Linked DNA regions of Homo sapiens: region 1 is linked to region 2. A link means that fine-mapping ties the variant in region 2 to the expression of a gene that starts in the linked region. Tissue or cell type: whole blood. Region 2 holds a variant in brackets; the other region holds the start of a gene. All regions are shown on one strand. Distances are between the middles of the regions.

Region 1 (4,172 bases), 44 kb before region 2:
GGATCTGGAGCTTTGAAAACCACAGAGATATTTAAAATTACAATTTTAGAGAAAGATTTAAAATGATGAAGCACCAACTATTTTTGTTTACAGCCCCTCTTTGCAAATGTGGAGGAAACATGTAGGGATACACATCTTCTTCTCTCTTTTTTCACAAGATGATTCATTTCTCCTAAATTGAGAAATGAGAAAGACTGGGTGGAAGGAGGTTGTGGATTGACATGAAAGAGAAAACTTTTTTAATTCAGAAAAATAGTTCATGTGTTTTCACACACGTGTACATATGTGCATACACACACACACACACACACACACACACACATCCAATCCCCCTGAATATCCCAGTTTCCCCTGCACCTTCCTTGCCCCCCTCCCACTGGCTTCTTAGCCTCCTGTCCCAGAACAACCCCACCAGGCCTGCAGAGCCATCACTGAAAAGGGCATGGCTGTCCTCTAGACTGTAATCCTGAGTCCAGAGGTCTGGCCAAAGATTGGAGGAGCATCCAGGCCTTGACCCCCAGGCCTGCCAGTGTTCCAGGACATTTGCTCACTCATACCCACTCACAATCTTACGTGTACCCCGGTTCCCCGACTGAGAGAACTATGAGGAAGGAGGGGGCAGCTTTTGCCATCACTAAGGTAAAGAGGTGCCAGGCAGCTCTGCTCGGTCCCAGGGCTCACCAACCCTGCCATCATTCCCACCAGTGGACCCCTTCTTAACCACACCCAGGCCCCCATATTGCTGAGGCTATTGATTCCTACAGACCAGGCCAGAGGTCAGCTCAGTCCTGTTCCTTTCTAAGGCCTTTCCACACAGAGATGAAGTCTAGGCCCTCAATGCCCTTCCCCTGAACTCTTCTTCCAAGTTCAAAATCCTCAAGGAGCAAGAAAGAGGGCAGGTGGCTGCGTGTGTGTTCCAGAGGAGAGAGGCGAGGAGTTGCTGTGGAATGGGTTATGTGACAATTTTGTTAGCCTGACAATGCAAGGGTGTGAACGCTATCTGTGTAGAACAGAGGGAATGGCTTCAGGTGCTGCTCAGGATTCTTCCCTGGAAGAGGTCATAGCTGTGGTGAGAAGGTAATAGCATCTTGCCTACAGCCCCGAAAGCAGGCTCTACCTAAAGAATCAGGCATAAAACAGAAGTTCCCTCCTTCCTTTTACAAAAGAAAAGGCTGCTTCCTGGTGAGCAAACCAGGGGAGACAGGGGGCAAGGAGGGCATCCTACAGAGACCATCCCTCTCACTTCTGGTGGTCAGTGACCCAGGAGGACCCAGAGAACCTCATCCTCAGGCTCCTAGGCCTCTGTTCCCCACTCCTCCAATATTTCCAGGCCTGCTGAGTTAGGGCTCAGCTGCCTCCCTCTTCCCTCCGCTGGAAACAGAAGCTCCCAGCGAATGTTTCTAACTCCTGAGTCCACTCAGCCATGTCCCCCTTGCAAAATCCTCCCCTTCCCGCACCCCCCTGCACCCAGCCAGCCAATCCGCGGCCTACGAGCCTCGCCAGACCCATCTCCCAGGGCCTCAGCGGGATAAAACCGGTCGGTGATGCCGGGTGGATGGGAACAAACTTCAGAAGGAGGAGAGACACCGGGCCCAGGGCACCCTCGCGGGCGGACCCAAGCAGTGAGGGCCTGCAGCCGGCCGGCCAGGTATGTCACCCAGGGGTTAGCTGGAAGCTGGCTAGCAGTGAGGACGGGGGATGGAAGAAAGGAGAGGGTCCCAGGATGCCTGGCAGCCTTTTCCCTCCCAAGTTAAACGGGATAAGACTGGGACAGCGGAGGGAGTGGGCACGGAGGTTGGAGTCTGGAGCTTCTTCAGCGCACTCCCAATCCTTGATCCTCCCGGGAAGCCTGTTAGCTAGGCTAGGCTGAGGTTGGCCCTACTTCGCCTAAAAATCCTCCTACTCCTGGCAGACGATGCAGGTGTAAAGGATGAGGCCTGGGGAGGGGGCCTGAGGATGCAGGCATCGAATCTCATCGCATCTCATGCCCTTCTCCTGGGTTTGTGCAGGGCAGCGGCAGGCGCGGCCCGGACCTACGGGAGGAAGCCCCGAGCCCTCGGCGGGCTGCGAGCGACTCCCCGGCGATGCCTCACAACTCCATCAGATCTGGTAAGAACGCGGTGTGGTCAGGATCCCCGAGCCCCCGCGCCGCTGAGCGTCCGTGCGTGCGCTCGGGTGGTTGGATCTCGAGAGCGTCAGCACGGGATTCGCGGGACCCACCCGCGTGGGGACCCAGCTGGGGCGCCTGGGGCCTGGCCCTCCGCTGGAGCCGCCTCGCTGTTCTCGGGCACTGGGGTTCCACCCGGCCAGCTGAGCCGCCCTTGCCCGGTTTCGAGGGACCACATGGATCGGTGAGGGGATCTCTGTGGAGTTAGAGGGGGTTTCCTTTGAGCTCCATTCCCAGCCTTGCATGGCGCATTAGTGTGGACATTCTTCGTGCTCTGTCCCTGGGCTGCACCGGTGCTGGACTTGCCGTTTCCCCGTCCCCGACCTCTAAGTCCTCTTCCTCGGGTGCGCGCAGTCCTTCCCAGTGACTCCCCTGGCTGGACTGTGAGCTCCCCGCATCTCTCAAGCCAACGGCAATGGAGCCGGTGGTCCCGGGCCCGGGAGCCGGCAGCGCACTCAGGTGCTCTCCGACTCCTCCTGGCCCAGCACCGGGCAGGCCGGGCGCCGCGCGCGGGGCGTCCGGCTGGTGAGGACTAAGCCGCTCGCGGAGTCAAAACCCCCTCCCCACCTGCGCCCGGAAGCAGGGCCTTCAAACACACTCGAGCTCCCAGGCCGCGATGCCTGTTTTCCCCCTTCCCGGCCAGGGCTGGGCAGGGTCTTTGCTGGGAAGGAGCTCCAGGGTCAGGGCTGGTGGGCGCAGCCGTCCCGGCGCGCAGCGAGTGCGGACAGCGGTGGAGGCGCAGCGCGGCCCGCAGTGATGGATGGAGCCCGGCCGGCCGCAGAGAAGGCGATTTATGGGGCCAGGGCGCATCGCTATCGATTTGGGCCGGCGAAGTGAGAGGAAATCAATATTTCAGAATGAATTCTCCGCGAATATGATGTCCCGCTCTGCAAACGGGACATTTGTTATAATAAGGAGGGTCGGATCGGGCGCGCAGCGAGGCTGAGATCTCTATTTAGCCAAGCGCACTGCGGGGGCCCGGGCTCTGCGGCGCAGTCTCCAGTCCCAGGGCCATGGCCCAACTAGGAGGGGAGCGGGAACCCCCTGGGGCGCCGGAAGATTTCTCACTCGGGTTCTCTCTAGAGCTGCAGACGAATGCTCCCTCCCGGCCCCCATTCCCCTCAGAGACCTGGGCCAGAATCGTCCGGCTGCCCCCAGAAGGCGCGGGGTCCCTTCAAGGTCCTCAGGGGAGAGACCTCGCAGCCATTCCCCGGCGCGGCGGGGTTGGGGAGCCCTGGGACCGAGCAGAGCTCCCTGGCACCTCTTTACGGTCCGCGTCCTGGAACCACGAGCGCTCCTAGGCCACTATCTAAGGTCAGGATCAGGTTTTAGTCCCTTAATCTTTAGCCAAACCGTGGTACGATACCAGACATCGCCAGGACCATCCCTGAGGCCTAATGTGCAGTGCCCGGTGCCCATGCCAAGCTGGTGCAATGGCACTTCTGCGCCAAGCTGGTGCAATGGCACTTCTGCTCGGCTCTGGAGGTCCATCTTTCCTCCTAACCTTCCCCTGACCCTTCCGGCGGTGGCAGGAGGAGTGAGTGCTCTCGGAAATCAAATTCACTGTGGCCGGGCTGGACCCTTACTCTCTGCCGCTGCCCAAGAAATGAGACGATGTCCCCGTCCCTCAGATGAGCTTTTTTTTTTTTTCGCGGCTACTTATTTTCATTCTAGAAGTACTCGTTAGAATAGATGGAAATAGAGTATGGAAAGAATAAATAAAGGCACAATTTATTTTTACTGTAGTTTTAATCAGGAACAGTCCCAGATGATGAGATGCGCGCTTTCCCACTAGCTTGGATGCAAATCGCGCTTGGGTTTTGGGAGGGAGCCCTCTGCCCCTGGACCTACCAGGTAATTTTTTTCCCCTTTCTTCTTTTCGGGAAGACAGAGGGGCTTCTTCTACCCTCTTTCCAAAACAAATAGACAAAGTGGCGAGGGAGGGAAGATGAGACTTTCTTCTCATAGTTTAATTTAAACGCTAATAAAACAAGAAAATGGCCTA
Region 2 (4,172 bases):
GCAGGTACAACGCCCGGAGCCTCCCTGGCAGGTGGAGGGCGGGGGACTGAAGAGCTTGGCTGGCTGTCAGGCGGAAGGTGTGGGGCCCTGGCCTGGAGAGGAGAGGCGGGCTGTGCCGGCCGGGCCGCCAGGTGGGCCCAGGGGTCGCGCCTCCGGTCCTAGGCCGGGCCTCAAGGTGGGCCGAGGGGTCGCGCCTCCAGTCCTAGGCCGGGCCTCAAGGTGGGCCCAGGGGTCGCGCCTCCGGTCCTAGGCCGGGCCTCAAGGTGGGCCGAGGGGTCGCGCCTCCAGTCCTAGGCCGGGCCTCAAGGTGGGCCGAGGGGTCGCGCCTCCGGTCCTAGGCCGGGCCTCAAGCTGGGCCGAGGGGTCGCGCCTCCGGCCCTAGGCGGCTCCCGTAAGGTGGGCCGAGGGGTCGCGCCTCCAGTCCTAGGCCGGGCCTCAAGGTGGGCCCAGGGGTCGCGCCTCCGGTCCTAGGCCGGGCCTCAAGGTGGGCCGAGGGGTCGCGCCTCCGGTCCTAGGCGGCTCCCGCAAGGTGGGCCGAGGGGTCGCGCCTCCGGTCCTAGGCCGGGCCTCAAGCTGGGCCGAGGGGTCGCGCCTCCGGTCCTAGGCGGCTCCCGCAAGGTGGGCCGAGGGGTCGCGCCTCCAGTCCTAGGCCGGGCCTCAAGGTGGGCCCAGGGGTCGCGCCTCCGGTCCTAGGCCGGGCCTCAAGGTGGGCCGAGGGGTCGCGCCTCCGGTCCTAGGCCGCTCCCGGGTCTCCGCGCTCCCTCCTGTGGGAGAGGCGGGCGCACACACGCCTTCCGGGTCTCTCCATTTTCGCTGCAGAAGCGCAGCAGGGAGGTCTAGCTTCTCTCTCCCCGCCTTGCCACGCCTCGTGGGCCCCGGCTCTCCCCAGCCCAGACTCTGAGGGCAGCTGAGCCTGCCCCGCGCCCCGCCCGCACCCTCCACATCCCACGGCTTGGCTTGTGCGTGTTCCCTCCCCGCCATCTCACACCCCTCTCTCCTTGTTGTCTCCCTCCCTCCGGCAGATCCTCACTCACCCTTCGCCATAAAGCAGGAAACCCCCGAGGTGTCCAGTTCTAGCTCCACCCCTTCCTCTTTATCTAGCTCCGCCTTTTTGGATCTGCAGCAAGTCGGCTCCGGGGTCCCGCCCTTCAATGCCTTTCCCCATGCTGCCTCCGTGTACGGGCAGTTCACGGGCCAGGCCCTCCTCTCAGGTACGACAGGGAGGTCCCGGGGCCATGCAGCTATGGCGGCGGGTGGGACGGGGGTCCTCAGGGCAGACCGCCAGCCCCCTCTCTGGCCTCAGTCTCATCCACCCCCACCCTGTTCCCTAATTCCTCCGGCAACTTTTGGAGGCGCCAACATGAAGTTCTCTGTGACGGGGAAGACATGCTCGGAAGGGGCGGATGCTGTAGGGGTGCCGGGGATGCACCACCCCAAGACCCCATGGAAAAGCAGGAACCCTAAGGCCGGGAGCCGGGTGCTGTAACGTAGCAACTTGGCCTTGGTAAATGCATAAATAGATAGAAGGAAAAATGAACATTTTGGAGGGAAAAAGGAATTGGCTTTTGGAGCCCATTTCTGGATCAAATTTCTAAAAAGGCCAAGGGTCAGTCCCAGTTGTGTTTCCATGATGCAGCTATCTTCATTCCTAGCTTAACAGCATCACCGGGAGGACAGTCAGACATCTGTTAAACATGATAAATTCAGTGATTCAACAACTTGAGAGGAGTGGGGGACCTCCCATCAGGAACCTCAACTGCCTCAAAATATTTAAAGCTGGAAGCACCGACCGGGCGAGGTGGCTCACCCCTGTAATTCCAGCAGTTTGGGAGGCCGAGGCAGGTGGATCACAAGGTCAAGAGTTCAAGACCAGCCTGGCCAAGATGATGAAACCCCATCTCTACTAAAATTCAAAAAATTAGGGGGTGTGGTGGCAGACACCTGTAATCCCAGCTACTGGGGAGGCCGAGGCAGGAGAATCGCTTGAACCCAGGAGGCATAGGTTGCAGTGAGCTGAGGTGGCGCCATGGCACTCCAGCCTGGGTGACAGAGCAAGACTCCATCTCAAAAAAGAAAAAAACAAATAAATAAAAATAAGTAAATCTGGAAGCACCTGAGGGAGCCTCTAGATCAAACCTCTTATGCTGATGAGGAACCTGGCCCAGGGAGGAGAAGGTCCCTGCCAAGGTCTCTGGGCAGGAGCACCATCTG[T/C]AGCTGGTTGAGGCCTGGGCCTGCACTGCATGAGTCAGACCTCAAGGGGAGCTGGCTCCTCCTGGCAGAAGGACCTTCGCTCATCCAGCCAGGGCCTGAGGAATGGCTGAGAGTCAAGCGCTTGGCTTGGGTTGGAGAGGGCCTGAGATGCAGTGAAAGTGGGAAGCAGAGACCCATATGGTCTTCAGATACCTCAAGGGCTTCCACAGGGATAGGACTATTTTAGATGTGGGCCCAGTGGGGGCCCAGGACCAGGGAAGGAAGCCAGCTAGCTCTCAGTTCAGCATTGGAGGAATCTCTTTAATAGCGGCACTGTCTCCAAGGAGTGTGGGTATTTAGTGACAGAAGTAAATGCCTCTTCACCTCCCACACCCTCCTACCCCGACGACCTTGAAATGCTGGAGCAGAGACCAGTGCGTGGGTGGGGTGTGTGAGACCTGTCACAGAGGCAGCCCAGAGTCAGACAGTCCATCTGGACCAGTGGTTTCAAATTTGGGCCTCTCAATGCTCTCTTGAAATGAAGCCTTTTACAGAAGACATGTATGCTCACCAGACCCCTGAAGAACTGCTCTTTTAGAAGGGGTCCCTGCCCCTAGAAAGCCCTTGGACTTCGAAACCACTGCACCAGAGGATTAAGACCTCTACAAGCCCAGAGTAACCACAGGGTCATGTGATAAAAGTCCCTGGACCCTTTTTTTTTTGTTTTTTTGTTTTTTGAGATGGAATCTCACTCTGTTGCCCAGGTTGGAGTGCAGTGGCGCGATCTCAGCTCACTGCAACCTCCACCTCCTGGGTTCAAGTGATTCTCCTGCCTCAGCCTCCCGAGTAGCTAGAACTACAAATGGGCGCCACTACACCCGGCTAATTTTTGTATTTTCAGTAGAGATGGGGTTTCACCATGTTAGCCAGAATGGTCTCAATCTCCTGACCTTGGTCCGCCCACCTTGGCCTCCCAAAGTGCTGGGGTTACAGGTGTGAGCCACTGCACCCAGCCCATGGACCCTTTTTTATAACTGGCTCTACATTTTCTTTCTGGCTGGCACCCGGGTTTTTTTTTTTTTTTCCTCCGTACATCCCAGCACCTAATGTGAGAAGTTTCCTTAGAAGAGAGGGACATCCAGTGTGTGGGCAGAGAGATGGTGTTTAAGGGTCTAAAGCGAGGAGTTGACTTGGAGTTCAAGAATTCAAGAGGGTGAAGGCAGCAGAGATGGGTCATTTGTTTTGACCAAAGTGATGAAAAGAGCAAAACCTGTGAGCTGAGTAAAATTATGTCAGCCAGAGAAAATGGGATGCGGGGTAGGGAGGGGAATGAGAGGATAGTGGAGAGGAAGGGAGGGGAAGGGAAGGGAGGGGAGGGGAGGGGAGGGGAGGGGGTGAGGAGAAGAGGTTCATGTCAGTTACAGGGAGTTACGCAAGCCTGCATGTCTTCTGAGAATGGCAGGCTAGAGCTGGCGGCGGTCATGGGGCAGGCAAGGGGTGAGGGTGTGGTGGTGCCCATGATGATGGGGAGCAGGTGCTGTGGAAGCCGCGGAGAAGCTTGGCAAGACCAGCTGAAGGAGAGGGAAGGATGTAGGGCAGCTGGAAGTGGATAGATGTATCAGAGTGCAGACATAGGCTGTAGTGTAAAGTGCAACTGGAACAGCCCAGGGCAAACTCCCTACTCCCAAAGCCCCTACACTTTGTCCCCTCCCTGTCATCCTGTTAGCATCCCCTGTCAACATGCAGTCAATCAGAGGTGACGCCTCCAACTACTGTCAGCTGTTAATTTAGTGGACATGCCCACTCTCCAGGCCAACTGCAGGACTGAGAGGTCACCCAACCCATGGGACAAAACAGCTGGCAGCAGACACCAGGTAGTCATGTAGGAAGCAGGCAGCCAAATATGCAGCACCGGCATATCTTTCAGGCTGGTGGCCCCCAATCCAGGCCCAGATGATGCTGAAGTGCAGGTGTGAGCACTT

Evidence for each region. PIP is the estimated chance that this variant, and not a neighbour inherited with it, causes the effect.
Region 1: PAX8 starts here. The variant in region 2 is fine-mapped to the expression of PAX8 in whole blood (INTERVAL, PIP 0.98).

The regions. Positions count from the first base shown.
Region 1 is chr2:113,276,307-113,280,478 of GRCh38, reverse strand. PAX8 (paired box 8) reads left to right here and starts at 1,558. Exons shown (of 12, transcript NM_003466.4): 1 at 1,558-1,648; 2 at 2,010-2,109. The coding sequence starts at 2,085. RefSeq lists a promoter at 956-2,085.
Region 2 is chr2:113,232,433-113,236,604 of GRCh38, reverse strand. PAX8 (paired box 8) reads left to right here. Exons shown (of 12, transcript NM_003466.4): 8 at 1-4; 9 at 1,023-1,211. It overlaps PAX8-AS1 (PAX8 antisense RNA 1), which reads right to left and starts at 336. Exons shown (of 6, transcript NR_015377.2): 1 at 1-336. RefSeq lists a silencer at 920-999 and an enhancer at 1,250-1,439. The variant T/C (reference allele first, on the strand shown) is at 2,212.